Homo sapiens: one gene and its partner. The protein of the gene in region 2 interacts with the protein of the main gene of each other region in a pairwise test. Each region holds a gene or a part of one and is shown on either strand. Other genes may lie near its edges.

Region 1 (3,500 bases), on a different chromosome or scaffold from region 2:
CTACCCTAACACATGATATTCTTTCTACTGTTATCTGCCAACACAAATATGTGGTTGCACAAAACACTCCTAAGAGGCAAGTGACAGTGCTCAACTTCAAATCTGCATACTGGTCCACAAAGGACCGGCTTGGACCTGGGAACTCTGGCAAGGATGTATTTACCAGAAATGAAAGCTTATGTGGAAAAAAAAAAGGTGGGGTTGGCGGTGGTGGCAGCATTCATTTCAGTGAAGGTGCTGTCAAACATTTTAAAAAGGAAGCATAACTGCATAACTAGATATGGATGCCAGGGGCATTACCGTGCATTGGACAAAGCAAATGCAGCTGCAATTAGCAAGTGAAAGTTTACAAGGCTGGTATATCATTTTCTTGAACACGCTGCATGAGGTTTCTGTGCTTTTCAATTACAAAATAAAGATAATAATTCTAAGATTGTAGAACTTGGAATTATTAATTCTAACAGAAATTATGAGAAATTAATGAAAATATATGCTGATACATAAAGCATCGTGGTATCTGGGAAAATGGTCAATCTGCATCTCTATTTGGAAGTGTGGTAGGATTCTAAAGTCATCACACATGGTTACAACTGCAAAAACCCAAGATTAGCCTTGAAAATCCCTTATGTGCACCAGATACAACACCTGGTTTTGTGAATTAAAACCCATAGACTAATATGTATATATAAATATAGATACTAAAATACAATACATTTTTTCACCAACTCGAAAGTTCTTACCAAACAATACACATTAATGCGTGCAGGTGCAAAACATTTTAGAGTAATTTAACTGCATAAAAGAATGCTCTAGAGTCAAGAAAATAAACATGTAATGCACGTATGATGTGACTTCATTATTAGAAAGTACTCAGCAAATGTTAGTTTCCTTTAACATATTTTAGAAGCAGCTATTTGAAGTATATTGCATCTTTTTTAGAACGACACTTAAAAATAACTCACTTTCCAAGTTTATCTGTGATTTTTATTTCACCATAAATTGAAGGGAGGAAGAAACAAACACTTCCCTCCCAGGACGCCCCAATACACTTGTCCAGTTCTCTGGATCTGAAGAAGAAGAGGGAGGCAGAGACATGGCTTTACCAGTAGGGGCCGCTGTGCTGAGAATTGATTCCTGTGAGTTTCTCATTAGTGATTATTATATTGCAGGCAGCCAAAATGGAAAAATTAATTAATTTCAAAGTGATAATGCATTTACAGCAACAATTAGAAATGTGTAACTGTAAAAGGGCAACATTTAAAAGACAGATCACATTTAATAAAGTTGCACAAGAACATCCAATTGTAAAATTACTGATCTGCAACAATATTCCTTAAAGAGGCACTTAAAATAGCCCGACTCCATGAAGAGTGACCTAATTACTGTAACTAAAATCACCGTAGTCACAGCAAGTCACAGCAAATAAAAAAGGGACGTTGATATTAGAATACTGCTGTTTAATACTTAAGGGAGCCAGCTACAGAGAAGAAATGAAGGCAGGGCTTCCGAGCGCAAGTCTGGGTTGTATTTCTTGCTCCCCTGACCTCATGCAACAGAATGTGTACTCCAGCAATACCCGTGTCAGAAGGAAGCACCCTCTCTAAGGTAAAAGGCAGACAAGGCAGAGCACACTAGCCATCTGGTGATAGGGACATTGCATCTATGCTAAGCTTCTCAATCACAATTAGAAACCCAGCCTTTACCTACGGAAGAAATGGGATGCAACTGCGTGGCTTATATCCAAAAATATGTCTGCATTCAAATAGCAGAAATGCACCCTTTGTCCAAGAAACTGATGCATTATCCTGACGGAAGCAATGCCGAGCCACATACGCAGGATAGCCCAAGAGGGTGACTTTTCCAGTCAGTCTGGTCTATCTTACTAGGAAAATGACCAACCCGAGGTCTACATTCACAGTGATTCCTCTCCTAAATACAGAGTCCTAAATGTTTATGAAAGAAAAGTGAATGCCTGTGAATTTGACAAGCAAGCTCAGAGCGCCAATTCCACCTCTGCATGAAGTGACGTATTACTTTCAATGGCAAAAACCTCAATAACTTCTGTATCAACCTAATATAGAGAACGCTGATGGCTAAAAAAGTACTACCAAACGCTTAAATATATAAATACACTAGAGAGGATTTTAGTAAGACTCTTAGCTACATATTCCACAGTCTTCGTCATCTTCATGCTTATCTAAAGTCCATTTGTGACATATAAAAGCTGCTATTTTCTAATCACTCAAGGTCAGAAACAAGAAAAGTCCACACCCTACGGCTTCCTCACAAATGAGACGTGCAGGTTGGAGATCACTGAACCAGGGTCCCTTCACCTGGACGCCCTTTCTACCTGGCCAGTAAACCTCTCCCTGAGTCTTTGGGGCCAGGGACAAAGCCCTTCTCTTCCCTTTCCAGACTCCCAATTTGCAGACTCTTGTTCTGTCAGCAGAGATTACATTTTGGAGAATCATCATCGGGACCAAGGCACTGCTCACAACGACAAGAGTAACAGCCATCGTGGCAGGAAGTACTGCATACCTCCCATGCGAAAGGCACTGAGCTAGGCATGTCATTTGACCACGCTCTCCAGTATGGCAGCCACTTGGCACACGTGGTGTTTTTCAGTTCGAATTAACAAACATGGAATCAAATTGAAAATTCACTTCCTCAGTTCTATTAGCCACATTTTTAGAACTCAATAGCCACATGTGGCCCACGACTACCATACTGGAGAGCCAGATTATAATAACTGCAGAAATTCTATATCCATCATTATTGATGTTATATGCATTATTGTCGGTCCTTACACTAACCTGTATCACAATTTTCATCGTAATGAGACAGGCTCAGAAAGCTGGTGACATGTCTAAGTTGTTCCAGTGGTCAAGGGTAAGAGCTGAGCTTAGCCATCAGCACCATTAGCAGGAGAGCTGTGAGGTCCACTGTCCCAGGTTGCCACTTTCTTGTCTTGCCACCACCAGGAAGTCATGTCAAATCCCATCTCAACTACAAGGGAAATGCTCACGTCCAGTGCCCTTTCTATGAGTGCCCCTCCACAGACAACTTCAACAAAACCTGGGATTTTTGCGATGTCACCACTTTTCTCCAAACCCTCTCATGAGCTACACACTCATTTTCCCACAGCTTTCTCACTCAGGGATCTAAAGCTCAGTGCGCAGTTAATCTTTTACCCAAGGCTGCTCCCAGAGGACATTTGTTTCTCCCAAGCCTTGCCTTGCTATAGGCATTGAGGCCTGTTCACAAGTAGTCTCTGAGCTCTCCTGCCAGGGAAATAGGAGAGACTGCAGTAGGGTGCGGCAGAGGCTGCTGCACACTGGTGGGGTAGGCAAAGGAGTTAGGCATGGAGGTTGGGCATCTGCTATTACTAAGACACACTACAGGTACGGTGCTCACTGAGTTGCAACCTTCGTCCAATTCATTGTGCATCCTCCCCGACATGGTAGTCCCTCTGCCTCCATTTCTAACCCCATACTCTGGTT
Region 2 (3,500 bases):
GGTCATGGACGCTCTGGAACCAAGAGTGCTTGAGTGCTGACATAGGTCCCATGTTACCGTGTCCTGTAAACCCAGCATACCCCCTCCCCACATTCATGTATCCAGGACATATATTTGCAACCTGAAAAACATAACTAAGATATAATTTCTAAAGATTCCTATGTATTACTCTTTTAGATGTTACTCTTACCTATAAATAGGTTGATGTTTAAACCACTATGATATACTCACCTTTTCTAGTTGACACCAAAACTGGTACAATCTCTTTGTCAAAATGGCCAGCTTTCTGTGCATTCTCTGTCCTGTTCTGGGACAGAACTGCAACCTTGTCCTGATCTTCTCTACTCACTTGCCATTTTTTGGCTACATTTTCAGCTGGGAAAGGAGAAAAACAGCAAAAAACTAACATTTTCATGAACTGGCATTTGATAGCTCAAGTCGTCCACATTTGACCAAGCACTGACTGACCACATATGCTAGCAGGCTCATGGTGGCCTGTGCAATGCTCTGTGTGGGGTGGCCCTGCCTGCCACTGGCAGTTGGTTTGGAAATGTTGCAGTGACTCTCAGGAGTCATACTTCTCTCCTTCCCTTTCTATATAATTGTAAACTTACAGAAATTTCCTTCACCCAGAGTCACCATTTATATTTTCCCTCCATTTGCTTTAATATTTTCTTTCTGAACCATCTGAGAGAAAGTTGGAGATACAATGCCTTCTTACTCTTAAATTTTAATTTCAGTGTATACTTCCCCAAAACAAGGCCACTTTCTTACATAAGCACAGTTATAAAACTCAAGAAATTGGGCCAAGTGTGGCGGCTCACACCTGTAATCCCAGCATTTTGGGAGGCCGAGGTGGGAGGATCACTTGAGCCCAGGAGTTTGAGACCAGCCTGGGCACAGCGAGACCCTGTCTCCATTAAAAATAAATTTAGCCGGGCATGGTGTGTGTGCCATGTAGCTAGTAGTCCTAGCTGCTTGGGAGGCTGAGGCAGAAGGATCACTTGAGCCTAGGAGTTCAAGGCTGCAGTGAGCCATGATTGTGCCTCTGCACTCCAGCCTGGGTGACCCTGTCTCACAAAACAAAACAAAAATCAGGAAATTTAACATGAATCAAACACTATTATCTAATCCTTGGTCCACATTCAAATTTCACCTATATTTCAGTAATGTCCTTCTAGCTCCTTTATTTGAGCCAATAAAGAAGCATGCATTGTACAACTATCAATCTCTCTAGTTTGCTTTTGTCTGTAACAGTTCTTCAGACTATGCTTCTTAAGCTTGATATTTTTGAAGAACATGGGCGAGTTCTTTTGTTAAGGGTCATCAATTTTGATTTGTCTGATGTTTCCTCAGAATTAGATTAAGATTCTGCCAAAAGGCAGGTATACCACTGAATGATAGTATGATTTTTCTCAGTGAGTCTTATTAGGACACAAATGACAATCAGTTTATCCCAGGTGATGTTATCTTTGATCACTTGGTTAAAATGGTTTGGTATTCACCAGGTTTCTAGCTTTTAAAGGTACCATTTTTTCATTTATAAGTAATCAATAATTTATCAGAGGTTCTTTTTGGATTATCCAAATATCTTCTTCCCCATCATATTTTCACCCACTAGTTTTAGCATTCATTCATGACTTTCTAACTCCAACATTCCTTCTATTGGTAAGATATTAATTGGCATTTTACCACAAAGAAAACCTTTTCCTTTTCTCCCATTTATTCAGTTATTTATATCAGGATGGACTCATACATTTTCATTTTATTGAATAAGTTATAACTCATTACTCTCATTACTTACTTTGATGCTGAAATTTTTCAATACTTGGGCAGTTATAACCCATTACTATCATTACTTATTTGCACGCTGAAATTGTTCAAAATTTAGGCAGTTACAACCCATTACTATCATAACTTATTTGCACGCTGAAATTGTTCAAAATTTGGGCAGTTACAACCCATTACTATCATTACTGACTCTGATGCTCAAATTGTTCAAAATTCCACTACAGGAAAGTGGAAGCCCCGTAGGCTGCCTCCTGTGTGCTTTCAACATGTCCCTGAGCATGTCCTTAATTTTTTAGCATTTTTTCCCTAGCCTTGGAAAGGGCCATTTCTCCAAACAACCTTAGTTCCTTTTAGTGGATAAATGTATTTAGAAGATCTGGGTGTCAGGACTGCTTGTTGTTACTGGTTTGTCATTGTTTCTAGGTCTGTTCAGTAGAAACTTCCATATGTATTATTTATAATTTTACATATACACACACACTCATGGTAACACCTTGAGTTCATACTGCATTTTGAGTTCTCCAAAATGCAACCTAACACCACAAGCTACATTCTTCTCCCTTTCCGTATTTGTAACTCTCTTCTACAAATGTGAGAATTGGCCAGGTTTGGTGGGTCACACCTGTAATCCCAGCACTTTGGGAGGCTGAGGTGGGAGGATCCCTTGAGCTCAGGAGTTTGAGGCCAGCCTGGGCAACATGGTGAAACCCCATTTCTACAAAAAATACAAAAAATTAGCCAGGCATGGTGGTGAGTACCTGTGGTCCCAGCTACTCAGGAGGCTGAGGTGGGGGTTGCAGTGAGCCAAGATTGAGCCACTGCACTCCAATCTGGGTGCCAGAGTGAGACCCGTCTCCACACACACACACAAAAAAGTTATTGCTTTGCTTTCTATGTCTTGTCTTTACTTATCAAGCTGTTTTTCTTTCTTTTTTTTTTTTTTTGTTGGATGATGTCTCACTATGTTGACCAGGCTGGAGTGCAGCAGCTACTAACAGGCAAAATCAACCATAGTATACTATACAACCTCAAACTGCTGGCCTCAAGTGATCCTCCCACCACAGCCTCCCTAGTAGCTGGGACTATAGGCACCTGCCACTGCACCCTGTAAAAGCTATTCTCTTATATATACTTCTAGAAGCTTTACATTTTTTGCTTTTATTTTTAAATCCACGATTTATCTCAAATTAGCTTTTATATAGGGTGTGAGGTAGGGATCTAGGTTCATCTTTCCCATGTGAGTAATCTGTTATTCCAGCACCATTTGTTGAAAAGACTTTAATTTCTCCATTTCATTCCATTGATGCCTTTGTTGAAAACAAGCATAAGTCTGGGTCTATTTCTGAACTCTGTTCTCTTTCTCTGTCCTTATGCCAAAACCACATTGTCTTGTTTACAACAGCTTTATAGGTAATGTTAAAATCAGAGCATGTAAGTGCTATTTTCTGACTTCAAAATTGTTTTGGCTATTCTGAGTGCTTTGCATTTTATACAGTATTTATTTACACTATTTATTTATTTATTTAGAGATGGAGTTTCATTCTTGTTGCCCAGGCTGGAGTGCAATGGTGCAATATCTCAGCTTACTGCAACCTCCGCCTCTTAGGTTCAAGCAAGTCTCCTCCCTTGGCCTCCAGAGTAGCTGGGACTACAGGCACCTGCTGCAACACCTGGCTAATTTTTTGTAGTTTTAGTAGAGATGGGGTTTC

What was found.
Region 1: the proteins of ACAT2 (region 2) and WWOX interact in binary tests that used the Homo sapiens proteins (3 or more experiments, as listed by UniProt).

The regions. Positions count from the first base shown.
Region 1 is NC_000016.10:78,435,154-78,438,653, reverse strand, and holds part of WWOX (WW domain-containing oxidoreductase), read right to left. Parts: intron 1-3,500. UniProt on the Homo sapiens protein: Putative oxidoreductase. Acts as a tumor suppressor and plays a role in apoptosis. Required for normal bone development. May function synergistically with p53/TP53 to control genotoxic stress-induced cell death.
Region 2 is NC_000006.12:159,772,045-159,775,544, reverse strand, and holds part of ACAT2 (acetyl-CoA acetyltransferase, cytosolic), read right to left. Parts: intron 376-3,500; coding exon 232-375; intron 1-231. UniProt on the Homo sapiens protein: Involved in the biosynthetic pathway of cholesterol.